5 separate regions of the Homo sapiens genome follow, and regions 1, 2, 3 and 5 are each reported to be linked to region 4. Evidence: microRNA targets listed by miRTarBase, many of them from high-throughput screens and not tested one by one. Region 4 holds a microRNA gene; each other region holds the end of a gene's coding sequence. Distances are from middle to middle.
What was found. The annotated mature microRNA hsa-miR-4676-3p reads CACUGUUUCACCACUGGCUCUU and lies in region 4 at 1,352-1,373, opposite strand. An mRNA with a match to its seed (bases 2 to 7 or 8) in the 3' UTR can be bound and repressed. Matches are read on the target gene's strand: a 7mer-m8 pairs with bases 2 to 8, a 7mer-A1 pairs with bases 2 to 7 and ends in A, and an 8mer does both.

Region 1: miRTarBase lists GFRA1 as a target of hsa-miR-4676-3p. Seed matches in the 3' UTR shown: 7mer-m8 at 500-506, 7mer-m8 at 995-1,001 and 8mer at 3,163-3,170.
Region 2: the mRNA of EIPR1 is a reported target of hsa-miR-4676-3p. Seed matches in the 3' UTR shown: 7mer-m8 at 4,915-4,921.
Region 3: the mRNA of MAP3K1 is a reported target of hsa-miR-4676-3p. Seed matches in the 3' UTR shown: 8mer at 3,038-3,045.
Region 5: miRTarBase lists BEND6 as a target of hsa-miR-4676-3p. The part of its 3' UTR that is shown has no 7-base or 8-base seed match.

The regions. Positions count from the first base shown.
Region 1 is chr10:116,060,792-116,064,791 of GRCh38, reverse strand. GFRA1 (GDNF family receptor alpha 1) reads left to right here. Exons shown (of 11, transcript NM_005264.8): 11 at 248-4,000. The coding sequence ends at 394. Among named protein-coding and RNA genes, the nearest start is that of SNORD158, 130 kb to the left of the region's middle.
Region 2 is chr2:3,184,356-3,190,942 of GRCh38, forward strand. It overlaps EIPR1 (EARP complex and GARP complex interacting protein 1), which reads right to left. Exons shown (of 9, transcript NM_003310.5): 9 at 4,615-5,153. The coding sequence ends at 4,979. It overlaps LOC107985840 (a long non-coding RNA gene), which reads right to left and starts at 3,013. Exons shown (of 4, transcript XR_001739257.1): 1 at 2,049-3,013; 2 at 1,668-1,823.
Region 3 is chr5:56,891,774-56,898,360 of GRCh38, forward strand. MAP3K1 (mitogen-activated protein kinase kinase kinase 1) reads left to right here. Exons shown (of 20, transcript NM_005921.2): 20 at 1,758-4,379. The coding sequence ends at 1,907. It overlaps LOC105378980 (a long non-coding RNA gene), which reads right to left. Exons shown (of 3, transcript XR_948347.4): 2 at 6,477-6,523; 3 at 4,664-4,807. Among named protein-coding and RNA genes, the nearest start is that of SETD9, 15 kb to the right of the region's middle.
Region 4 is chr10:72,718,445-72,722,444 of GRCh38, reverse strand. MIR4676 (microRNA 4676) reads right to left here and starts at 1,416; the gene lies at 1,345-1,416. All of the region lies in intron 1 of MCU (mitochondrial calcium uniporter), which reads right to left.
Region 5 is chr6:57,016,771-57,023,357 of GRCh38, reverse strand. BEND6 (BEN domain containing 6) reads right to left here. Exons shown (of 7, transcript NM_152731.3): 5 at 5,959-6,151; 6 at 4,801-4,937. The coding sequence ends at 4,810. Among named protein-coding and RNA genes, the nearest start is that of KIAA1586, 27 kb to the left of the region's middle.

The DNA.
Region 1 (4,000 bases), 43 Mb from region 4:
TCCTAATGGAAGAGCAAGCAGTAAGCATTGGCCAGACGCTTTATCAAAAGTATCTGGTTCTAACCCAGGTTCATGGTTTCTTCCCATAAAACTACAAGTCAGTGAATGTAAGTCTCAGTGGTAAAATCTTGGTCAGCTTTGGTGAGTGGGTCAGCCAGTGGGGAGTCGGGGGGAGAGAGAGTGTAAAGTATACTGTGGTAGAATGAAGACATGCAGTGGATGATAATGAAACCATTCTTCCTTACAGGGTAATTATGAAAAAGAAGGTCTCGGTGCTTCCAGCCACATAACCACAAAATCAATGGCTGCTCCTCCAAGCTGTGGTCTGAGCCCACTGCTGGTCCTGGTGGTAACCGCTCTGTCCACCCTATTATCTTTAACAGAAACATCATAGCTGCATTAAAAAAATACAATATGGACATGTAAAAAGACAAAAACCAAGTTATCTGTTTCCTGTTCTCTTGTATAGCTGAAATTCCAGTTTAGGAGCTCAGTTGAGAAACAGTTCCATTCAACTGGAACATTTTTTTTTTTTCCTTTTAAGAAAGCTTCTTGTGATCCTTTGGGGCTTCTGTGAAAAACCTGATGCAGTGCTCCATCCAAACTCAGAAGGCTTTGGGATATGCTGTATTTTAAAGGGACAGTTTGTAACTTGGGCTGTAAAGCAAACTGGGGCTGTGTTTTCGATGATGATGATGATCATGATGATGATCATCATGATCATGATGATGATCATCATGATCATGATGATGATTTTAACAGTTTTACTTCTGGCCTTTCCTAGCTAGAGAAGGAGTTAATATTTCTAAGGTAACTCCCATATCTCCTTTAATGACATTGATTTCTAATGATATAAATTTCAGCCTACATTGATGCCAAGCTTTTTTGCCACAAAGAAGATTCTTACCAAGAGTGGGCTTTGTGGAAACAGCTGGTACTGATGTTCACCTTTATATATGTACTAGCATTTTCCACGCTGATGTTTATGTACTGTAAACAGTTCTGCACTCTTGTACAAAAGAAAAAACACCTGTCACATCCAAATATAGTATCTGTCTTTTCGTCAAAATAGAGAGTGGGGAATGAGTGTGCCGATTCAATACCTCAATCCCTGAACGACACTCTCCTAATCCTAAGCCTTACCTGAGTGAGAAGCCCTTTACCTAACAAAAGTCCAATATAGCTGAAATGTCGCTCTAATACTCTTTACACATATGAGGTTATATGTAGAAAAAAATTTTACTACTAAATGATTTCAACTATTGGCTTTCTATATTTTGAAAGTAATGATATTGTCTCATTTTTTTACTGATGGTTTAATACAAAATACACAGAGCTTCTTTCCCCTCATAAGTAGTGTTCGCTCTGATATGAACTTCACAAATACAGCTCATCAAAAGCAGACTCTGAGAAGCCTCGTGCTGTAGCAGAAAGTTCTGCATCATGTGACTGTGGACAGGCAGGAGGAAACAGAACAGACAAGCATTGTCTTTTGTCATTGCTCGAAGTGCAAGCGTGCATACCTGTGGAGGGAACTGGTGGCTGCTTGTAAATGTTCTGCAGCATCTCTTGACACACTTGTCATGACACAATCCAGTACCTTGGTTTTCAGGTTATCTGACAAAGGCAGCTTTGATTGGGACATGGAGGCATGGGCAGGTTCTCCTTTCTTTGGAAACACATCCATGCTGGGATGCACAGTTCTTTTCCTAAGGATTGTGTTTACTCCTGACTGCAACGTCTTGGCCACTGTTTGGAGCAGTTTGGTCTGAAGGTCATTAAGGATCTGCTTGCATCTTGTTTCATGTCCTCCGTGACAGACTGCAGACCATGTTAGAAGAGAAGGAAGGTTTGTGGATCAAGAGGGTTGACATTAGGTTTGGTGAGATGAGTTGCTTGGCACAGATCAGCAGAACAGGACCCTGGTGATAAGGCATCTGGCTTTGCTAACCACTTATCATCTTCCATTATTCTCTTTCTTAACTAAGTAGACCCGAAAGTGCACTTTTGAAGTCTGGTTTAGATGGCGAGATTCCGAATCTACAATGATCGAGTACTGGTGGCCACTTTTCTCCAACATTAAGTAAAGAGGAGGAGATTCCACCTTCAGAAAGTGCTGGGAAGCATTGGCTTTCTTCCCACATTGGTAGAAGAGATGGAGGAGGAAACCAGGGTGCACATTTCTACAGATCCCCTTTGCCTGCTGGTGTTTGCCTTGTAAGATAAGTCACTGGGGGGAAGGGGAAATCTATGAAATCCAAGATAAAGGCATAGTCTTTCAGCTCTATTGGTGTTAAAAGTATATTTGTGTCCAAATGTTAATCAACACAAATGTACAGTACTCAGTACTGACTTTTTTCACTTCAAAATGTTTTCAAGGGAAATTCAGCAGACACCCAACTGTATTTAATTAGTGAAAAGATCTATAAAGACTCTTACTTTGAATAAACACATTAAGTAAGTGTGTCAAAATATTTGGAATGCCAGTTATCTATGAGCGCATATCTCTTACAGAGTGTATTTTGTTTTCATTAAGGTATCTCTGTGTATCTACACTGGACTAATTTCATAGGGATCTGATTCTATGTGATCCACTGTAGAAAGCTACTGATTACTTCTGCAGTAACAGCAGCTCTAATTAGCATCAGATGACCAAAGCGGAAATGGGAGTTTCAGCGCTAACAAGGGCAGCCTTCATTGAAGAATGCATGGGTAGGCAATATATAAATTACATTTTGAAAAGCCTCATCTGTCACCAACAAATATCTCATTTTTCTTCAGTGATAAAAGCATATTCAAGTTACCAGCTCCTCAATTTGAAAATCAGTTGCTGATTAAATAAATAGGGGGAAGCATCTTGTTCAGGGACAACACGTTAGAGAGATTCTTATCAAAGCAAGCCAAGCAAGGTTTCCGCCATTCAGTGTGATCTTAGTTTGACACGGTGACCCTAAAACACCATCATTTGCCCCAGAACTGGAGCACAATAAGTTAAATCATTTACCTGTCTCACTTCTTCTTGGCGTGCTTAAAAGCAAAAATGATTCGCTACTTCCTGTCCTTCAGTCCGGGCATTTGGGGTGCCACTGAAGACAGGGGTTATCTGCTGAGGTTTGGGTGTCTTGCAGGAAGTATCTCATTGCAGTTGATTTTGATGAAACCAAACAGTAACTAGGGTCCATGCAGACCGTGACTCCCTGATTACATCTAGCCATGCCCTACTTATTTCAGAGAGAAAGAGAGGGGGAATAAAGGCAGTATTGCCACACTGATTAGAAGCACATTCATTCCACTTTGATGTTGAATATTTTTGACCGATACATGCTTGAGTATCTTTTTAATAGAGCACATGAAGGAAGAAGCACACAATATAGAGAAGGAATTGAGAATGCCAATTACATATTTATTTTTCCATACCTGATTTTTTTCAAGTCTGTAATAAAAAAAGTATAAGTTGAGATTAACATAGGTTATTTTTCATGAAGTATAGCAAACGATCTAGAATGTGATAGGAGTGTGGTTTCCATTTCTTTTTTTTTTTTTTTAACAGACTTTTGTGCTGTAGTAAGAATGTCTTAGAAGTTGTGTCTTCGAGTTCCTCAAACACCGGACAGGGCTCCCCCAGAGCTGCCTCAGCCTTTGATTTGGTCCATATTCAGACACTTCCTGTCTTGCATACACTCTGAGGATGGGCCGCTTCTAGCTGCCGCCCGTCTCCCTCTTGCCTTCTTGTCTCTAAATCAGACACTCCCAAGCACTCCATCTGCTATACTAGGAGAGTGGGAGAGCCAAAGCATTTTGGAGTCCATGTAAAGTGCCTGGGAAAAGAGATGTAAGAGCAGTGGGAGTTTATATAATTAGCGAATTCTTTTCTCAGAATTCAGCGGAAATGTATTTCTGTTGTTATTATTTACAAAATTGTGGCCTCAGAGGAGCTGTCTTTTGGAAAATAAGTTTTCATTCATGCAGTTAGTTAGACATGCACGATGTACTTGAATCA
Region 2 (6,587 bases), not on the chromosome of region 4:
GGTAAGTCAGGCCCCGGCCAGGGCACACCATGGATGACATTCATCTTTTCTGGCACTGACGCTGCCGTCCACAGCCACAGGCGACACCGCACAGCACCTGACACTGCACAGAGGGGCCAGGAGGACGGGTCGAGGCTGACTTCTTTCCCCATATTCCCAGCCCCCCAGGTCCTGGTAAAGAAGGTCCACATGTAATCCCATCACCTTCAACACAGCTTCTGTGTAAAGGAGGGAAGAACCCCATCTATACAGGAGGCTTGTCCAGCACAGCCCCTCCACCACCCCACGCGCAGGGGTGTCCAGTGCAGCCCCTCCACCACCCCACGCGCAGGGGTGTCCAGTGCAGCCCCTCCACCACCCCACGCGCAGGGGTGTCCAGTGCAGCCCCTCCACCACCCCACGCGCAGGGGTGTCCAGTGCAGCCCCTCCACCACCCCACGCGCAGGGGTGTCCAGTGCAGCCCCTCCACCACCCCACGCGCAGGGGTGTCCAGTGCAGCCCCTCCACCACCCCACGCGCAGGGGTGTCCAGTGCAGCCCCTCCACCACACCACGCGCAGGGGTGTCCAGTGCAGCCCCTCCACCATCCCACGCGCAGGGGTGTCCAGTGCAGCCCCTCCACCACCCCACGCACAGGGATGCAGGCTTAGCTCTGAAAATGGCATGGGCAACAAAGGATGCTGGTGATGAACCCCAAAGTCTCTGCATGGCTGCATCCTAACTGTTCCAGCTGTCCAACCAGTCACCTAGAGGTCACTGGGCTGCCTATGGGTAAGAATTGCTGGAGGCAGAGCCTGAGAGACTTGCATGAAGGGGACATGGCCTATGCCCCGGTCGGTGGACAGAGCCGGGCAAGGTGCCCCTAGCCTGTTTCAAAATCCTCAGAAGGGGGATGCTTGCTCTGTTTACAAGGGGTCCTTAAGATAAAACTATGTCCTGTGTTTGAATGTGTGTGCATTTTACAAATAGAAGTACTGTTGATGACGCCCAAACCGTGGCCACACTGATGATGGCCGCACTGGCAATGGCCGCACTGGCGATGGCCACACTGACGATGGCCGCACTGATGATGGCATTGGGTCCCACGTGGTGCTGTCCTGGGGCACACTCGCTTTCTCTAACGGAACCTCTCACCCTGTTCATCTGGAGTTGCTCACCAGATCACACCCTCGCCTTCCTATTCCAGGATATCCCTTCTCCCCCCTCTGTGCTTCTCCACTGGACTAGTCTATCCGCATTCAGAAACACAGATATTTCTCCTTCTTAAAGAGAGAGATCCTCAGCCGGGCGCGGTGGCTCACGTCTGTAATCCCAGCACTTTTGGGAGGCTGAGGTGGGCAGATCACCTGAGGTCAGGAGTTTGAGACCAGCCTGGCCAACAAGGTGAAACCCCATCTCTACAAAAATTAGCCCGGTGTGGTGGCGCATGCCTGTAATCCCAGCTACTCTGGAGGCTGAGGCAGGAGAATTGCTTGAACCTGGGAGGCGGAGGTTGCAGTGAGCCAAAATTGCGCCACTGCACTCCAGCCTGGGCGACAGAGCAAAACTCCGTCTCAATAAAAAAAAAAAAAAAGAAAGAAATAGAAAGCTCCTTGTGGTCACAGGCCCTGGGGGGCTACTCCTCCTGTTGTTTCCTTTACACAGCCCCTCCCGCTCCCAGCTTCCTACCTCTCTTATCCCGTGCCGCTCCTGCAGTTCATGCTGCTCCTGCTGTCCACGCCGCTCCTGCCATCCACCAGCTGCCAGGGGGCCTCCCCAGGGCCATCCACACCTCCATGTCCGTGTCCATCTCCAGCTCGTTCTCCCCCACATCTGACGCCCCATCTGCAGCATTGAGGGTGCCTCAGTCCTTCTCCCGGAAACCAACACTTTGCTTGGCTCCTGGATACCCCATGCCCTGTGCCCTCCCACCCCCAGACTCCTCTGAAGGAGGATTCAGAGGAATCTTCGCCTCCTCTGAAGGAGGATTCAGAGGAATCTTCGCCTCCTCTGAAGGAGGATTCAGAGGAATCTTCGCCTCCTCTGAAGATTCCTCGTCCCAGAGCTCACCTGAACGTCTTCTCTACACGACTTTCCTGTGGTCTTCTGGGGGCCCTGCCATCCGTTCACCATTGAAGGACGCTTGTGTTGCTTCCAGCACTTGGTGATTATGCCTGGGTAGAAATATCTGTGTATAGGTATTTATGCAAACATAAGTTTTATTTTCTGGGGCTGGCATTGGCAAACAGGCCCCAGGCCACATCCATCCACCGCCTGTCTTTGTAAACTCATGGTGTGTGTCTGGCAGGACAACCACAGAGAGGAACATGGACAGTGACTGTGGCCCTCAAAGTCTAAAATGTTTACTTTCCAGATCCTTTCTCGAAAAGGATCCAGGGTAAAGACGTGAGGGCTGACTGGTGTGGTGAGTGTGTGTTAAACTCATGAGAAGCCAGCCACCGGGTGCACAGTGGCCTCACCATTGCACACACACAACGCACACACACTGGCGGCTGTGTGCCAATCAAAGGCAGTAAACCATCCAAACTCTAAACTTCAGTCCTCACCTGTTCAGTGGCTTCCGTCTCAAAAAGGCAGGACCTCCAGTTCCCCATGGCTGGGCCTCCTGCCTCATTCCCATGCCAGCCCAGCTGCCTCCCTACCTGATCCACTCACCCAGGTGCCACCCCACCCCAACCCTGGGCCTTGGCTCACGCATCGCCTTCTCAGAGAGCCTCGCTCCCACAGCGCTCCCTGGCCCCTCCTCTACACTCCCCTGTGGCATCTGTCCCCATGTCACCTGATGGCCCACAGGAGCACTCACTCCAGGGGAGCTGAGACTTGCCCTAATCACAGCTGTGGCTGCAGCAACAGCAGGATCTAGAAGTGTGGGTACACAGTAGGCACTCAATTTATGTTTGTTAAACAAACACATTTTCTTTCAAGTGACAGCAACTGAAGGGAGGACTGACATTACAATGCCACACATTCCTCACACGTGCAGGTTTTACCTGGAAGCAGAAATGCTGGAGGGTCTGCAACACACCTGTCTCTGTCCACCCCCACTCCCCACCAGCACACCCCTCCCCAAGGCCCCCCGTACCAGCTTGCCCCTCCCCATGCCCCCCCCACCAGCACGCCCCTCCCCACGGTCCCACCCACCTGTGTGCCCCTCCCCACTCCCCACCCCCCACCCACCAGTGCGCCCCTCCCCACTCCCCACCCACCAGCGTGCCCCTCCCCATGGCCTCCCCACCAGCGTGCCTCTCCCCACGGCCCCACCCACCTGCATTCCCCTCCCCACTCCTCATCCACCTGTGCACCCCTCCCCATGGCCCCCCAACCAGCATGCCTCTCCCCATGGCCCCCCCACCTGCACGCCCCTCCTGACTCCCCACCTGCGCACCCCTCCCCACGGCCTCCCCACCAGCGTGCCCCTCCCCACAGCCCCACCCACCTGCATTCCCCTCCCCACTCCTCACCCACCTATGCACCCCTCCCCACGGCCCCCCAACCAGCGTGCCCCTCCCCACAGCCCCACCCACCTGCATTCCCCTCCCCACTCCTCACCCACCTGTGCACCCCTCCCCACGGCCCCCCAACCAGCGTGCCTCTTCCCACGGCCCCCCGACCTGCGTTCCCCTCCCCACTCCCCACTCACCTGCTTGCCTCTCCCAACAGCCCCACCCAGCTGTGCACCCCTCCCTACAGCCCCCACCTGTGGACCCCCCCATACTTGTCCCCTCGCCCAGGACCCCACCTTTTCACCTCTCCCCCTATGGCCTCCACTTCGCTGTGAACTCTCATCTATGAAAGGAAAATCCAGGATGCGGCCCTCTGGGTGCAGAGCGTCCTTAGCAGCACGGTACACCTACTGGCGGGGGCGCTGCAGCAGGAACGTGTCCTTTTTGCAGGTCGGGCAAGACTTGTCCTAGAATCGTCAAACCCCAGAGCTGATGGGCCTGTGAGCTCAGCCCATCCTTCCCCATCATTACAGATGAGGTGATCGGGGCAGCAGAGCGCAGAAGTGGCCCCTGCGGGGACACCTGGCCAGGTGGAGGCCTAAGGGAGATGGAGCCCAGAGTCCAGGGCCCAGGTGGCTTCTCCAGTGGGAACACGCACCAGACACAGAGAACAGACCCCGCACACCCAAAGGAACCACGAACAGAGGCTGCGAGGTCAGTGTTTGAGGATTCCTAAGGATAAGCACTGATGAGTGTAGGAGCCTGTGAGGGGTCCCCGACAACTGAGACGCGGGAGCCCAACCCCAAGCTCCGAGGTGAGGGAGGACGGCACCTCCAAGGCCACCAGTGCGTGCGCGTGGGGAGGAGGCCCTGCCCGGCTCACAAGGTGGGCAGGACACAGCACAGGATGGGCTGCAGAGACCAGGGGAGGCCCAGGGCGGGCAGAGCCTGCGTCTACAGCAGTGAAAATGCATCACACCAGCTCAGCCCAGGGCGCGAGCCAGGTGCCCACCAGCAGCCAGCATGGCTCCCGGGAGTTCCATGCTAGGGCGGCGTAGACAGCACACGTCTGTCCATCTGCATTTTCCCTGGGTCAGGAAAGAGAAAATGGACAAAGACCCAGGAGATGGGGTCACAGGGCAGAGCTCCTGAAAGAATGAGCCGAGCACCTGTGCAGCGTGGATTTATTTTATTTCATTTTTTACTCTCAAGAGAAAGAAGAGTTACTATTGCAGGAACAGACATTTTTTTAAAAAGCGAAACTCCTGACACCCTTAAAACAGAAAACATTGTTATTCACATAATAATGTGGGGCTCTGTCTCTGCCGACAGGGGCTGGGTTCGGGCATTAGCTGTGCCGTCGACAATAGCCCCATTCACCCCATTCATAAATGCTGCTGCTACAGGAAGGGAACAGCGGCTCTCCCAGAGAGGGATCCACCTGGAACACGAGTCACCTCCAAAGAGCTGCGACTGTTTGAGAATCTGCCAAGAGGAAAACCACTCAATGGGACCTGGATAACCCAGGCCCGGGAGTCATAGCAGGATGTGGTACTTCAGGGCCCTGGGCACCCTGTTGATCACGAGCCTCCCGTCATAGCTCAGGGAGGCAAACAGCCACGGGTCAGCCGAGGACCAGTCCACGGCATAGACGCTGTCCTCGTGCTCCTCGTAGGTGGCGATCACGTTGTCCTGCAGGGGCTCCTTGCTCCTGCAATGCAACAGAGGCAGACGTGAGCGCAGCAGCTCCGGCGGGGCGGGCAGGAGAGGGGCAGGGAGGACGCGAGCGCTGACATCGGGAGACACGGGAGGTACTGGGGCCTCAGCTTTCTCCGCTGTGGGATGGGAAGAATTAGAGGAGCCCACACCGAGGACGGTGGGGTGGTCCCTGCAGAAGCCCAGAAACCCTCACTGTCACTGTGAGGAGTGGGCATTTCTCAAAAGGTTTATGGAAATCGGCGACATTGGCACATGGTGTCTTGGTTTCTTCTGTCCTTGGCCCCCGGGTGCCTGGGTTGATATTTTGTTGGAGGTCTTCCAAGGGCTTCCTTTAGCTCAGGGGAAAGACTGGGGGAAGTAGTCACCGTGTCTGGGTAACACAGGATGTAAACGCCCCTATTGCTTGAGCAGAAAGGACCCTGGGAAGCAGCGGGTCCAGCTCCTGGCTGTGTAGGAGTCAGAGGCTGGGGCACAAGGAGCCTTGCTAGGATGGGAGTGGGGCTGGGCTGAGGATCCCCCAGGACACCAAGAGGAAGACGCCCTGGCCCTGTGGGAGCAGCAGAGGCGTGACCTGCCTGGCCTCCCCCAGGGTGTTTCCCACCTCGCCTCCCTTGACTGTGAGTTACCCTCACTGGGAGCCCTGACCAGGGGATCCTCACACAAGAAGCACCACTTCCTCAGCACAGCGTGCATGGGGAGGGGGCCCTGCCCGGCTCACAGCGGCCACTTTCCGGTGGACACAGGCTTCTCTGGCACTTTACTTCCCATTTCACAAAAAAATTCCCACATAATTTGTGTACCGCATTCTAACTGCTTTTGCATTTCTTTGTAGGAAAATGCTTCACCCCCCCAGCAAGACGGACCCTCCAGAACTCGCATGGTCTCTGGGAAGCTGGCTTCCCACAAAGTGGACCTGCCAGTGGTCAACTGCTGTTGTGGGACAAATGCCAGGTGCAAATCCTTAGGAGGAATCATGGTTTCCTGAATGCAGCAGGACATCAGGACTGAGGGATGTCCTAAGAAGTCTGCGTAGCCCCGATCACCTCCTCCCTTCCTATCTTGCTCCCATGACATTGCCGCCCAGAAGACAACGCCAGCAGTCTTCCGACCAACGGGCCCATCAGGCTCCTCCCCTAACAGGGACAGACATGGTGAGGAAGTGCAGACTCCCTGGGCCACTGGCAGAGAGGACGGTAAAGGGAGCCAGGCCCACAGGCACCGAGAGACCACTGGGCAGATGCTACCGTGCGTGTGCTTAAATACTATTCTATGGCAGACCGAGTTTCTAAGGTTTGAACAGAAAAACAACAGAGTCTGGCTCATGCCTGTAATCCTAGCACTTTGGGAGGCTGAAGTGGGCAGATCACTTGAGCTCAGGAGTTTGAGACCAGCTTGGGCAACATGGCAAAACTCTGTCTCTACAAAA
Region 3 (6,587 bases), not on the chromosome of region 4:
CCATTTCTTAAATAGGGAATCATTTCCCCATTTCTTGTTTTTGTCAGGTTTGTCAAAGATCAGATGGTTGTAGATGTGTGGGATTATTTCTGAGGGCCCTATTCTGTTCCATTGGTCTATATCTCTGTTTTGGCACCAGTACCATGCTGTTTTGGTTACTGTAGCCTTGTAGTATAGTTTGAAGTCAGGTAGCATGATGCCTCCAGCTTTGTTCTTTTGGCTTAGGATTGACTTGGCAATGTGGGCTCTTTTTTGGTTCCATATGAACTTAAGTAGTTTTTTCCAATTCTGTGAAGAAAGTCATTGGTAGCTTGATGGGGACGGCATTGAATCTATGAATTACCTTGGGCAGTATGGCCATTTTCACGATATCGATTCTTCCTATCCATGAGCATGGAATGTTCTTCCATTTGTTTGTGTCCTCTTTTATTTCATTGAGCACTGGTTTGTAGTTCTTGAAGAGGTCCTTCACATCCCTTGTAAGTTGGATTCCTAGGTATTTTATTCTCTTTGAAGCAATTGTGAATGGGAGTTCACTCATGATTTGGCTGTTTGTCTGTTATTGGTGTATAAGAATGCTTGTGATTTTTGCACATTGATTTTGTATCCTGAGACTTTGCTGAAGTTGCTTATCAGCTTAATGAAACTGAAGAATGCTAAAGACAAGAAGGAACCAAAGAGAAAAGACAAATTACAAGAAAAAAAATTGATAACAATTATATGGATAACAGAATACAGCAGCAACAAGAGAATTCAAAAGACAAATTGTACCTTCTAGTGATTGAAATAAAATAACAGTTAACCTAGGATTTCATAGCTAGCTAAATGATCATCAAAAAATAAGAATGAAATAGAGATATTTTCAGACACATGAGAATTGTGGAAGTTTACCTTCAGCAGACACTCACTGAAAAAAATTATTTTTAGGAATGCATTTCAAGAAGAAGAAAATTGATACCACAAATAGGGAGATATGCAAGAAAGACACTATCTCTGCCTGGAGTCAGCTCTGATTCATAATGGGTGCTCAAAAATTGTTAGAAAACTAATACTTTTTTTTATATATGACTTGAAATTAAAATATGGTTATTGCAGCACAAATTTTAGAATGTAAAGAGTGTATCACAATTTAAAAATAATTATCAGATTTTGAATTTTTTTAGAAAAACTACAAATAAGACCAAATAAAATTTCTTTTTTTTTAAAAAAAAAGTATTCAGACTTACAATTTGTTTATAAAAAAGTTATTCTTCATAGTGTATTTGATACTAAGAATCAGAATTTGTCCAACACGGAAGGAAAAAAACAATGCAGTTGTGTTTTCTATGTATTAAATTGACTCTTCAGTTTTAGTCTTTCTTAATCTAAATAGCTCTGTATGCTGAAGAAATAGAAAACGTGCAGTAAGAACAAACCATCTCGGAGATTGAATATGAGGACAGCAGAATTCATTTGAGTGAATACTTTATCTACCTGAACATTTTGATGTACTTAGCCTTGTTGATGTAAATAATAAGGAATAGGATATATTTGATCAAATCCTAAAATCCTAAAATTTGAAAGATTGTTAGAGAAAACCTCCCATCCAGTGGATGAATTTTTTCATAGACTTTTTGATAGCAGAAAATCCTCCCACTTCTGCTTCAGTTCCTCTCTGTTCAGGATGTAAATGTAAGGGTTATGAGGTCTATGCACATGTGTTTCTGTATCAGAAGTTACAGTTGTGCAAAGCTTCAACACTGGCTTTTTCTCCACAGATTGCTAGTGCAACTACTGCTCCATCGATCCCTTCACATTTGTCTCCTGGTTTACGAGATGTGGCTCTTCGTTGTTTAGAACTTCAACCTCAGGACAGACCTCCATCAAGAGAGCTACTGAAGCATCCAGTCTTTCGTACTACATGGTAGCCAATTATGCAGATCAACTACAGTAGAAACAGGATGCTCAACAAGAGAAAAAAAACTTGTGGGGAACCACATTGATATTCTACTGGCCATGATGCCACTGAACAGCTATGAACGAGGCCAGTGGGGAACCCTTACCTAAGTATGTGATTGACAAATCATGATCTGTACCTAAGCTCAGTATGCAAAAGCCCAAACTAGTGCAGAAACTGTAAACTGTGCCTTTCAAAGAACTGGCCCTAGGTGAACAGGAAAACAATGAAGTTTGCATGACTAAATTGCAGAAGCATAATTTTATTTTTTTGGAGCACTTTTTCAGCAATATTAGCGGCTGAGGGGCTCAGGATCTATTTTAATATTTCAATTATTCTTCCATTTCATATAGTGATCACAAGCAGGGGGTTCTGCAATTCCGTTCAAATTTTTTGTCACTGGCTATAAAATCAGTATCTGCCTCTTTTAGGTCAGAGTATGCTATGAGTAGCAATACATACATATATTTTTAAAAGTTGATACTTCTTTATGACCCACAGTTGACCTTTATTTTCTTAAATACCAGGGCAGTTGTGGCTCATTGTGCATTTTACTGTTGGCCCATTCATTTCGTTTTTGGAAATTATGGTTTTGTATTTTCATGTTTATTTACATTCATTTTTGTTTATTCAGGGAAAGCTGATCTTTTTTTCAAACCAGAAAAAAAAAATGAACTAGATATGAAGTAGAGTTCATTAAATATCTTGCTATTGTCAGAGTTTTTAAAATATAGACTTAATTTTGTTTTTTTAAATTGGAATACAATAAAGTACTACCTACATTTGAGTCAGTCACCACTCTTATTGTGCAGGTTAAGTACAAGTTAACTAAAAATAAACTGTCCTCTCTGGTGCAACTCACAACCAAGATCAAGATTACCTTAAAATTTATTTGAATTTTTTAGATGTTTTGGTTGTCAAACTGTAGGAAACTTCACAACATTTAAGTCTTACTCTGTATGTAACAATCCATCATTCACCTTCACTACTGGTAGTAACATAGAGCTGCCATTTTCCTTTTACCATGCATCATCTCTTTACAGTAGGCCTGGCAGATCATTTTTTAAAAAGATTATTCAACTACCAATCAGTAATGTTTTTAAACAGTACATTTGCTTTGAACTTGGAAAATGTGTTCAGAAAGAAAAATGGAATTGAATTTCATTTATACACTAATTCCTTGGATTTTGCACAGTTACCTAACGGTTTTAGTCTGGAGTTAAATTCAGATGCATGGAATCCTGAAGGAAAATGGTAGCTTTTTAATCTTTTTGTGTGTGTGTGAGTCTTTTAAATCAAGTACTGATTAACTATTAAGTACAACTTTGAGATTTTAGTTTTAACTCTTCAGAAGCCAGTGTGAAATAGAATTGGTTATTCTCAAAGACTCAGGATAAACTAAATAAGCTATATATAGAGTACATTTAAAATGTACAACACAAATTGGAAATAAAATAAGTTACAAGATAAGTTTACAGGGATATATTGCTTACAATTTTTAAAAGGCAGTTTGTTTTTTATGTGAATATGTTTCTTAGTGAAATTTTACATTCCTTTGTTTTGGAAGATTGGCGATATTTGAAGAGTTAAAAATAGTACAGAAATGTGAAGTTTGGTATCTCTAAATGTGTTGTACTTGACTTTCTTTTTTATTTTGTTTTTTTTTTTTTTTGACTACTTAGAATTTTCACAATTCTAATAAGATTGTTTCCAAGTCTCTCATGTGCAAGCTTTAAAGGATGCACTCTTGCCATTTTATGTACTGGAAGATCATTGGTCAGATGAATACTGTGTCTGACAAAAATGTAAACTGTATAAACTGAGGAACCTCAGCTAATCAGTATTACTTTGTAGATCACCATGCCCACCACATTTCAAACTCAAACTATCTGTAGATTTCAAAATCCATTGTGTTTGAGTTTGTTTGCAGTTCCCTCAGCTTGCTGGTAATTGTGGTGTTTTGTTTTTTGTTTTGTTTTCAATGCAAATGTGATGTAATATTCTTATTTTCTTTGGATCAAAGCTGGACTGGAAATTGTATCGTGTAATTATTTTTGTGTTCTTAATGTTATTTGGTACTCAAGTTGTAAATAACGTCTACTACTGTTTATTCCAGTTTCTACTACCTCAGGTGTCCTATAGATTTTTCTTCTACCAAAGTTCACTTTCACAATGAAATTATATTTGCTGTGTGACTATGATTCCTAAGATTTCCAGGGCTTAAGGGCTAACTTCTATTAGCACCTTACTGTGTAAGCAAATGTTACAAAAAAAAAAAAAAAAAATCTCTGGGTTAAGAAAATTTGGCTTAAATGTATCCTTTGTTATTTTAAATATATTGAGATATTTTAATTAAAATTTTTACCCCATTGAACCGATTTTATAGTATTTGTACCTATTTTGGTGTTTTTGTCTTTATAGTAAATAAAAGTTTTTGAACAAATGTTGTTACTTTTATTTATTTTGAAATAATTTCATACTTATATAAAAGTTGCAAGAATACCACAGAGAACTTCTGTATACCCTTCACCCAAAGACCCCAGTCAGGTTTCACCAGCTGCCCATTTATGTCCTTTATAGCAAGAGGATCCAAACCAGGATCACATGTTGCTCTCAGTTGTCATGTTTCTTCAGTCTCATTGAATCCAGGGCCATTCCTTAGTTCTTCCTTGACCTTAATGGCCTTAATTTTTTAAAGATTTCAGATTATTGTTTTATAGAAGCTCTTCAAATTGAGTTTGTCTGGTGCTGCTTCTTGATTAGATTCAGAGTATGCACTTTTGGCAGGAACATCACAGAGGTGATGCTGTGCTCCTCTCGGTGTGTCATGTCAGGAGGCATAGAGGTCGTTTGCCCCATCACTGGTGATAACTGATAGTAACACTGTATAGTTAGTCTTTCCTTTTATAATTAAAATCCACCTTTATAATTGGAAGTATTCTTTGGGGGTGATATTAGAGACTACATAAATATGATGTTTCTTGCCCAGTTTTAACTCTGCTCTTAGCTTTTTTGCCTGAATATATTACTCTGATGGTTGCCAAATGGTGATGTAGTTCCTTCACTTTTTCTTTGCAACATTTTGCTGCAAAGAAGAGCTTTCCCTTCTCCCATTTATTTATCATGTATCATCATATATTTGCTCAACTTGTTGCGGATTTGCCCAGTGGGAATGTCTGAGAGCTAGCTTCTCTATCCTTGGCAAGCCACCATTATTCTTTGAACACTTCCATACTTTCAGCCCCATCTTACGCAATGTCTCCTTTGGCCCTGGAATCAGCCATTTTCCCAAAGAGCCCTGATTCCTTTGATAGAGAATGGTATGTTTAAAACCAACATCTGGGTGCTAGATAGGCTCAATTCTACTGGATGTCACCACTCCTTGGCTGTCTTGGTAGAGCTAGAATGTATTTATGAATATGCACAGTTCGGTGCACACTTGCAAAGTACGCATACATATACCTACCTACATACATAAAAACCATGAGCTCACACCAACCTTCCAACTGCAATCCAACACCAACAGGGTTCATTCAAGCTTTCCCTTTTTCCAAATTTGTAACTTTCTTCTCAGGCAGTGAGAATCATGACTGATTATTCCCAACATATTGACTTACTTGCTTAATTCTTCCTCATGTCCCTCCCCCATGTAACCGATCTCCATGCAAAATGGTTAATGTTGCTGAGTTCAGAAGCCATTTTGTTTCTCTACATTGGTTTCAAGTTTCTGTATAATTTGATTTGTTGTTTTTTTTGTTTTTTTTTTTTTTTTTTTTTTTGAGACAGTCTCACTCTGTTGTCCACGTTGAAGTGCAGTGGCACAATCTCAGCTCACTAAAGGCTCTGCCTCCCAGGTTCAAAGGATGCTCCTGCCTCAGCCTCCCGAGTAGCTGGGATTACAGGTGGACACCACCATGCCTGTCTAATTCTTGTATTTTTAGTAGAGACAAGGTTTCACCATGTTGGCCAGGCTGGTCTCGAATTCCTGACCTCAGGTGAACCACCTGCCTCGGCCTCCCAAAGTATAATTTGATTTTAAATGTAAGTCTTTTAAATAGGTTTTGGGTATTTTTTGCAAAAGGGTACATTTCTGTCACTTAAAAATATTAAGTTGGAGAAAAGTTTTTTTTCCAGATGAAGTAATAGAACCAATTCTATTGCTCCTTAATTCTATTTAAATGATATTAATAATTTTATAAAATGGGTGACAGTCTTCATGTCAGAATCCAGAAAAATGTTGGGGTATTGTGCTCATAGAAATGCCAATGATTGCATTTATGAGCTGATGTAAGTCATTTGTTATAAAACAATGCATGAAATAACTACAGTGAGGGAAAACTGACTAATGGAAACTTATACAAATTGCTGTCTTTCTATGTCATGACGTGGTTTGGCCGTTTTAAATTATACTATAAGCATAAATGCCAGGTTGAGCTGTGATTAAAAAGGAAAGGACGGGCCTCTTAAAGTAGGTAACGACGGATGCAGTGACTACAGGACCTGAGATACAACCTGGGTTAAATCTGGTTCTGCCACTTACCTGCTACGTGACCCCCATTTTGACTTTCTGAACCTCCATTTCTGCATCTATAAAATGAAAGTGACAGTGTCGTGAGAAGTGAGAGCCTATATAAATGGCCTAGAATAGTAT
Region 4 (4,000 bases):
TCAAGCGGGAGGTTAAAGTTCCTTAATAAAACAGAAAAGAAAAAGAAACAGCTGAGGTTAAGGGGAAAAGGTGGCATCTAGTTCATAAGAAGTCATGTACCTTTTTTTTTTTTTTTTTTTTTTTTTTTGAGATGGAGTTTCACTCTTGTTGCCCAGGCTGGAGTGCAAAGGTGCAATCTCCGCTCACTGCAATCTCTGCCTCCCGGGTTCAAGTGATTCTCCTGCCTCAGCCTCCCAAGTAGCTGGGATTTAAGTGCCCACAGCTTTTTCTAATTATAATAAACAGTATGTTATACTAATCTACACGTTAATATTTATACCAAGAATTCCCTATAAACCCAATTTATCTTCAAATAAAGTGTATAAATTCCATTGTTTCATAACTTAGCACAGATCTTCAAACCCACAATGATGTTACTGTGAGAACAATATACTATCAAATGTACACTTAACCATAAATATTGTTGCATTCCCCATAAGGAGCCTAAGTGGATAGTAATTCAAGTTGCAATTACCAATAAGAGGCCCAAACTGATTTGTTTATATGTATCACAGATATTTTCGTTTCAAACAAAATGAAATGCTTCTTTTTAAGTCTCAACAGCAAATATAACCATTATGCCCACCCACAGATGACATTGCCTAGAAATAGCAGTAATGCATCACTACAGCAAGGCACTAGATGACTACAAAAACACTGTAGTGTATATTAAAATCATCTCAGAACAACCAATAAAATAAAATTTTCATGCAAGGAGATCATGGAAGACCTTACTGAGAATATAATATTTCAGCAGAGACTCAAGAGGGAAAAGAAATAAGAAAACCTGTATATATTCAGGAGAAAAGCATTCTAATGATAGAAAACTGCAGTGCAAAAATCCTATGAGGTAGGTGCATGTTCAGCATGTTTGAGGAATAGCAAGGAGGTCAGTATCACAAAATGGAGTGGGCAAGAGGGAAAGTGGCAGCAGATGGGAGTCAGACGGGGAGCCAAATGTTCAACAGTGATGTGCTGAAGCCGATATTGACTGGGGAGCAGATTGCTGTACATTCTAGAACTTTGAATCAGCCAGAGTGGGAGTAATTATACCAGTAAAACAGGCAAATGCTACAAATCAGAACCTTTTCCCCCTCCAGAGAGCCAGTTTATTGTCACTACCTGTAGGCCCCTTGAAGAACTTTGTCTTTTACTGAGTGAGATCAGAAGCTACTGAATAAGTCTCCTTCTGCCTGATGTCATCATTCCCACTGCTGAATTACGACCAGAGGTAAGAAAGAACAAAAGCAGGGAGACTAATTAGAAAGCTGTTAATATAATCTAGGTGAGATACATTGTTAGCATGAACCAAAGAGCCAGTGGTGAAACAGTGAGAAGTAATCAACTCACTGTCTCACCACTGGCTCTTTCATTCAGGCTCTGGATATAAAGAACTATTCTTACTTGGATCAGTATGTAGCAACAATTACTAAGCTTCCTGTCTAGAAATCAGTATCTAACTCTAACCTAAACATGTCATTCCTGGTTCTGAATTAAGACTGTTAGTTGGATGTATAAAGTACTTCAAGAAGCTCAAATAACCAGGAGTCTTAGATGCACGTTACATATCTTCAGCTATTAAGGGTTCTATTATCATTTCAATTGATCAACATATACATTTGTTGAACATCTATTATAAGACACTGCAGAGAATACAAGTAAAATCTGTAATCCAAGCCCTTTCCTCAAGGAGGTTACAATCTGAAGTTTAAACTAAAGCATCCGTATATAAAAAGATAGATTCAACACAATGGAAGTATAAAATGTGTGGCAGGGCTAAGGAGTATTCTATAAATTGGAAAGGAGAAGGAAGAAGTCACTGAACAGATAGGACTTGAGCTGTGCCTTGAAGGATGGATAGAGTGAGATGATGAGAAAGGAACAAACGGAACAAGTCAGGGCCTAATAGTCAGTGGATCTGCAAAGTGAAAGGGCTAAGAAAAAGGTGGGAATGCACTTGGTGATTAAGGAGTAATCTATTCATGGCATTCAGGAGCATGGGGAGACAGAGGTTACAACTGGGAAGTATGCAGACATATACCTGAATTCCTAATTCCATCACTTACTAGCTTGAGCAAGTTACATAGAACCTTCCTGTCTTTATTTCTTCAGCAGTAGAAATTATAGTACCTACTTTATAGGACTGGTGCACAGAATAAATGAAATAAAATCATGTATGTATGGCATGTCACACAACCTGAAAGTTAGTAAGCAGTCACTGGTTATCAGAAACATTATTGGCCAGGCACAGTGACTCATGCCTGTAATCCCAGGCCATAGTGGAAGGATTGCTTGAGGCTAGGAGTGCAAGACCAGCTGGGCAACCTAGTGAGACCTTGTCTCTCCAAAAAAAAAAATTTAATTAGATGGGCGTAGTATTTTGCACCTGTAATCAGTCCCAGTTACTCAGGAGGCTGAAGTGGGAGGGTCACTTGAGGCCAGGAGCTCAAGACCAGCCTGTGCCACACGGCAAGACTCCCATCTCAATCAATCAACTAATCAATCAATAAAAATGATTGGGAAGTGGCAATGGTTAATGGGCACAAAATAATTAAAAGAATGAATAAGACCTAGAATTGTATAGCACAACAGGGTGACTATAGCCAATAATAATTTAATTGTATATTTTAAAATAACTAAGAGAATATAATTGTATGTTTGTAATATAAAGGATAAATGCCTGAGGTGATTTATCCTCAAGTCACTGGAAAAACCAAAAGTGACAATAAGAAAAATCACAAAAAGAGCTCTGTTTGGGAAGAAAATTCTACATTCTGGTTATGTTAAGTGATACCTTAAAGCCAAAAGAACATGTAAAATACACACACAACCAAGACTACAGCTCACTTGCTGATGTAACAATCAGTGGGAAGGAACACATACCAGCACTCGTAAACACATGAATATTCCAAATGCACAACTATTTGACCGATCATTCTTTACTGTACTAAAAGAATACCTGAACGTTTTGACTTGGTGAATCAAAACAGACCAAAAGGAAAAGATGTCCTTCTTTGGGGCATCTCAAAAACCTGGTTACAATAACAACAGATTATTAACATCAGCTACTTTATTCTTCTTATAATACAAATAAGACTAAGACTGTAACAGCTCCAGTAACATAATGGTACCTTGATAATCCTATAATTCTGACAGCATATATTCTAAGATAAAAGGTTCATTTGCTCAACTGGTTCTCTACATATCCTTTAAATGTTAACAGTGAAATGCTGTGTGTTTTCCAGAATTGCTAATACTTTTAATACTTTTTGTATATACTTTCTGAATAACATGTAAATGAAAAAGTATAAACTTGATAATTTTTTCACAAAATGAACCCACCCATGTAACCAATGCCTAAACCAAGAGACAGAACATTACTAGCACCCCAGGAGCCCCCTTCATACCCTCTGTCAAACACTTTCCCCAAACCCCCAACAAAGGTGATCAGTCTCCTGACTTCTGACACTATTGATTAGTTTTACCTGCTTTTGAATTCATATAAATGGAATCATACACTGTTAGTGTCTGGCTTCTTTTGTTCATCATATTATTTGTGAGAACCATGCATTTTTATATGTAGTTGTAACCTGTTCATTCTGATCACTGTTCAATACTCATTATGTGGTTATGTCACAAATTATATACTTATTCTACTGTTGATGGGCACTTGGAAAATTCCAGTTTGGACTATCAGTCCTGCCATGAACATTTTTGTCCAGGTCTTTTGGTGAATATAGATAGACACATAATTCTGTTTTGTATAAACCTAGAAATGGAACTCCTGAGTCATAGGGCATGCATGTGTTCAACTTTTGTAAATAACTAATGAACTTTTAAGGAATAAATATTTTTAAATCTTCATAGGGAAATATGAATGATTAATAGATTCATCAGAAGGTATGGACTCCAAAACTACTTTCAGCGGGAAAAAACTTATTGACGTAGGATAGTTGATCC
Region 5 (6,587 bases), not on the chromosome of region 4:
AGTCATTTCAGCAAGAGGCTATAATAGTTTAAAATGTCTATGCACACAACACAAGAGCTCCCAAGTATATAAAGCAAACATTAATAGATCTAAAGGGAGAGACAGATTGCAATATAATAATACTGAGGAACTTCAACACCTCACTCTCAATAATGGACAGATCCTCCAGACAGAAAATTGACAAGGAAACACTGGAGTTAAAGTACACCATAGATCACATAGGCCAAACTGATATTCACAGAATATTTCACCCAACTGTTATAAAATACACATTGTTTTCATTAACACATGGCACGTTCTCCAGAATAGGCTATATCTAGGCCACAAAACAAGTCTCAATAAATTCAAAACAGTAGAAATCATATCAAGTATTTTTTATGACCACCATGGAATGACACTAGAAACTGATAACCTGAGGGTCTCAGAAAATGCACAAACACATGGAAATTAAATAACAAGCTCGTGAATGACCAATGAAGTAATTAAGAAAAAAAGTATAAAATTTCTTGAAACAAATGTAAATGGAGATACAACATTCCCAAATCTATACTATACAGCAGAAGCAGTACTGAGATGGAAGTTTGTAGCAATAAACACCTATATCAAAAAAGTAGAAAGACTTCAAATAAACAACCTAATGGTGTACCTCAAAGAACTAGAAAAGCAGGAACAAACGGAGCCTAAACCTAGTAGAAGGAAAGAGATAATAAAGATCAGAGCCAAAAAACAAAAAACAAACAAACAAAAAAGGAGATTTAAAAAACCAGATCAATGAAAGAAAAAACTGGTGTTTTTAGAAGACAAAGAAAATCAGCAAACCATTAGCCAGACTAAGAAATAACAAAGAGAAGGCCAAATAAATAAAATGAGACATGGAAAAGGATACATAATAACCGAGACCACACAAATACAAAGACTCATTAGAGAGTATTATGAAAAACTCTTTGCCAACAAATTGGAAAACCTAGAAGAAATGGTTAAATTCCTGGACACATACAACCTAGCAAGATTGAACCATGAAGAAATAGAAAACTTCAACAAATCAATAGGGAGTAACAAGATCAAAATTATAATAAAAAGTCTTCCATCAAAGAAAAGCCCAGTACCTGATGGCTTTACCCCTGAATCTACAAACATTTGAAGAGACAGTAATACCAGTTCTGCTCTAATTCTTCAAAAAAAAAAAAAAAAAAGAAAAAGAAAAAAAGAAAAATTGAAGAGGAGGGAATACTTCCAAACTCATTCTACAAAGTAGTATTTCCATGACACCAAAACCAGAGAAGGGCACAACAAAAAAACAAAACTACAGGCCAGCATCACTGATGAGCCAGATACAAAAATCTTCAACAAAATACTAGCAAACCAAATTCAACAACGATGTTTAGCAGCATCCCTGGCCTCTGACCACCGGATGCCAGAAGTACCACCAGTTTTGACAATCAAAAATATCTCCAGGCATTCCTAAATACCCTGCGTTGGAGGAAGGTGGCTAAATCACACCTCCCTCTCCGCCGCCCCCCACCATTTTAGCACCACTGTATTAGATCACCTATAAGTTATAATATATGTTATGTAACATTACGCCAGAGATTATATACCCTGAGGCCGCTTTGGAAATTTCAGGAGAAGGCAGTTTGGTCACTTAGTTGGATGTTATAGAGGTGATAGCCTAATATTCTGTAAATCTTATAAATACATTTTTCTTCAATGCCTGCAAGAAAGAAGTAAAAAATGGAGACAGGCTGGAAAAAAATCAAGCTCTTGCATGTGAGAGCTACAGGCAACTTTAGGGCAGCCACAGGAATAAGAAAGAATATATTAAAAAAAGGGAGGAATTTAGGCCTTACCCTCACAGACCTGAGCCATAGCTGGGAAATTGTTACCCTTTTAAATCTAAGCCACCAGTGACAACCTGAGCTCAGGACTGAGTGGAGGGCACGGTCTACCACAGGGACCATGCTAGAAAAGTAAGTTTTTCAAAGAATATTTTTGGTGGCAGGGCAGGGCCATAGGCTCCTGTGAGTTAAATGACTGAGAACAGAAAAATATAACAGTATTCCACTAGATGGTGCTATATCTGATTAATTTATCAAGCATGTCCAAATTAGGTCTTACCTGACCCTGTCTTTTCCAGCATATTTTCCTCAGTCCTTTTTGCAATAATTTGAATTCAACCATACTTAAAATGAAAGATATTTGCAAATTTAAAAAATTCCATTCTAGCTAATCTCCATTACTGATTCAAAATACATGCATTTCCAGTCTAAACAACTTGGCACTATTAAGTCAGGCTCAGGTTCAAAAGGCACAAAGTTCATAGCAAAATGTCTGTTCCTTGTTTCAATTTTAATTAATGCCATAGCTAGCAGATTTAATAACACTTCTATTGTTAAGTACAAGCAAAACTGATATAAAAATCTCTTAACTTTCACTTCTTTAACATTCTGCTGGCTGATATAGTCAGAGATGAGTTTTGTGCCTATCCTTGGAAGTCAGAAATATTAAAAAAAAAAAAAAAAAAAAACAAGAGTTTAGGATATCAAAATGCTTTACAGACCTCTGAAATATAACAGTGTGCCCCAAAAGATAGCCACTTGACTTGGAGGTCTGGTAACATACCATTTAGAAAAGGAAATTGCCGGTCACGGTGGCTCACGCCTGTAATCCCAGCACTTTGGGAGGCCGAGGTGGGCAGATCACTTGAAGTCAGGAGTTCGAGACCAGCCTGGCCAACATGGTGAAACCCCCGTCTCTACTAAAAATACACAAATTAGCTGTGTGTGGTGGCGCGGGCCTGTAGTCCCAGCTGCTCGGGAGGCTGAGGCGGGAGGATTGCTTGAACCCAGGAGGTGGAGGTTGTAGTGAGCAGAGATCGCGCCACTGAACTACAGCCTGGGCTACAAAGCAAGACTCCGTTTCAAAAATGAAAAATAAAAAAGAAAAGACAAGGAACTTAGTTACTGGGTGGAGTGCTTTCTGACATTTGAGGAGTTCAAGGTGGAAGGATTGCTTGAGCTCATGAGTTCAAAACCAGCCTGGGCAACAAAGTGAGAACACTGTTTCAAAAAAAAAAAAAAAAATAGAGAACTTGGTCATTATACATCAAGGTAACTGGGTGGGTAACCTCATGTCAAAATAGGAAGTACTAAGGGCATATTTAAGCAATTATCTAATAATTGAAAAGTTGTGAGGTCACAATCTACTGAAATTTATAATCACTTGGAGAAAAAAGATACAGGTAACCTTATCTTTTATAACTTCTTTTTTTGGAAACAAGGTCTCACTCTGTCCCCCAGGCTGGAGTGCACTGGCAACATCACAGCTCACTGTAGCCTCCACCTCGCTATCCTCCCACCTCAGGCTCCTGGGTTACTGGGACTACAGGTGTGCACTACCACGCTGGGCTAATTTTTTTTCTTCCGTATTTTATAAAGATGGGGTCTTGCCATGTTGGCCAGGCTGGTCTCGAACTCCTGGGCTCAAGTATCTGTCTGTCTCAGCCTCCCAAACCATTGGGACTACAGGCGTGAGCCACCATGCCCAGCCATGTTCTCTAACTTTTAAAGTCAGTCTAACAGTATGTGTGAGCCAAGGGAAAGAATTTCACTGCAGTTGTTACAAGTAATAGTTTTTTGATTTGTTTATGTTTTTGTTTCAGGAAGACAGACATTGTTGACTCTCGGCAGAGCTGGTCTTAGTTGTGTAGCAAAATAGATAAGGGACTCTTGGGGGAGGATGGGAGTGGTAGTCAGTAACATGTAGGGCGTTTGGGGCAGGGGATTACTGCATTACATTCAGCTCCACATCTCATTTAAAACATGGTCAGAAGAAATGAAGTCAAGTAAAATGGTCTCGAAAGTGGCTGGTATTAGGCAGAAGACAGGCAAAGTACAAGTCAAAGATAGAAGTGGAAGGAAAATGGAAAGAAAAAAGGAATATCTGTGGTGGGCCTTACCCTCATGTGTTACCCACATGCCTCTATTAATCAATGAAAATTTTAACACGTCATACACATGGTTTCACGTATTTTCCATCAAAATAGTTGAGAGAGAGGAGGGGTAAGTAAAAGTGAGCTAGCCAGGATAGTGGGTGGCAAAATTCCACTTCACAGTTTTGCCTGGGTCAAGGCTTGACTAGAAAGTCTATTTACTTTAGAACTCTCACTAAAAAATTATTCTTTTTCTTAGTATAGGACATGCATCTTGGTAAAAATCCTTATTAAACAATAACAACTAATTTAAAAATTTAAAGACCATGCGAAGCAACATGTAGGATGGTGGAGAAGAACGCTGCACACTTCAGCCAATAGTTTGCACAACTGTCAGACCACTGTTAGAGCTAGCTGTAAGTTCAGTCTCATCGATGTACTTCAGATTTCCCAAGGGTCTAAATCTCCTCTGTCCTAGAGAGAAATACTTCTTAAATTGTCATGTGTCCTTCCTTTGGCTCCTTTCTATCCCCACCAAGTTAACAGGATTCTGTGAAAAAATTTCCTCAGTAAAACACATTTGGAAAACACTACATACTATATCCCTTTCTTAGAGATTTCTGGTGCACATGAGCATGTTAAAAGGGCATCAAAATATCTGAGAGGTTCTGAGGAAGAAAAACTGAACCCAGCATTTTCCAATTCAAACCCCACTCCCAGTTCTCCCCTTTTGCCACCAGGAATACCTATTAGCTTTTCATGGGTCACTAGTATTTTCTAGTAGAGTGATTGGAAAATGCTATTCCAATAAAATAAAAGTATTATGACATTTTCTTGCCACATTGAAAGGACTGAAGATTTAAAAGACTTACCAAAAGGATCTATTTAATATCCTGAGAGTTAAGATTTTTGCTTAAATTTGGCTTCTTGGTACAGTTGTTTAGCTTTTGCCCTATCATTCTCCTAATTGAAACATCATCCGTATTGGGAAATAATTGTTTTGTTACTCCTGTAAAAAACCAATAGCGACACATGAGAAACTTCATGAGTGCTTTGCATCTTAGGGTATGAACTGAGGTAAAACATCAAGTATTCTACATTATAATTTTTTTTCCATTTTACAAAAGTAGCCCAAACACCCATGAGCTATTTAAACAGATGAATATATAGGCAGGTTTTTCTAAGTAAAGCAAGAGATATCAGAAGGTCTATATTATCAACTGAGATCCTATGGTAGTGATTAACTTTAATCCTCCTACTTGCTTTAAACTCTAAGTCCTCTTGCTCTAAAATGTTAGGAATGTATTTTTATCCATTTCCAACATTAATTGAAACAACTAAACTCTGACTGATCTTTTTCTGTATCTGTCTGCCTCAGCCTCCCAAACCATTGGGATTACAGGCATGAGCCACCACGCCCAGCCATGTTCTCTAACTTTTAAAGTCAGTCTAACAGCATGTGTGAGCCAAGGGAAAGAATTTCATTGCAGTTGTTAGAAGTAGCAGTTTTTTGTTTCAGGAAGACAGACATTGTTGTATGTTAAGAAATGACATATATAGAGCTAGGATTCAGAGAATCCTTACATTTGTCAGATGTTGCCAAAAAATTAATTGGATAATCTAGATTATATTTAAGGAGATTCATTAATTTAAAAACCATAAATAGGATGGTCAAATTAGCCTTTATCTTTCTGGAATGAAAGATAAGACATATAACAAAAGCAAGGAAGAAATTGTTATTGAAATTTTACTTTAAAAGATTGTGAAAATTTACATTTCCAAAGCTATAAATTGTATGAATTGAAACCTTTTGGTGATATAAAACTTAGTTTCATTTTAATAACCATTGTTAATGTAAAGTTTTTCTATAAAATTTCCCATATTTAATGAGAGCTTTAGACTATCCTAAGATTTTTCTTTCCCAGAAAAATAAACTTTAAAAAATAAAAGGACCATGAAAGACTATCTTGACCTTGAGTGGTAACATGATTTAAAATTCATACGACAATATAACGCAATCATATTATCACCTATGATTTCTTGGACTTCATTCTGATTCATAGCTGGTTTTACAGCTTTGTCCCTTGAAGTAGAGGATTTTGCCCCTGTCAGGCTGTGAGTGGCCATGTATTCATTTGTGTAAAGTACTTGCATTAAATCATTAATAAACTTCTGAGGCTTGCTCTTGTTACAACGGGCAATCTGCCATTTTTCAATCTGGAACTAAAAAGATAAGAAAGAGTTGAAGTTGGAAAAAGAAAGTGCTGTATGGAGAAATATGTTACTAATTGAGTTAAGGCATAAAAGAAAACAATGTCAACATTTTTTAAGGTAAGATATTATATATATATTTTAATATATATTTTACATTTTAATTTAATATATATTTTACATGTCAGGGATTAGATTTAAATGTTATCTTTGTGATACTCTTCAATATTTATGAGGTATTTGTTATAGGGTGTATACAAATTCTTGTCATGTAAACTGGATTTGGTCCTTTCAGGCTTAGTCCCATACTCAGTGCTTCATCGTAAATGTAGTAGGCAGAATAATGGCCCTCTGAAAGGTCACATCCTAATCCCTGAAACCTATAACACGTTGCCTCACAGGGCAAAAACAATTCTGTAGATGTGATTAAAGTTAAGTACCTTGAGAT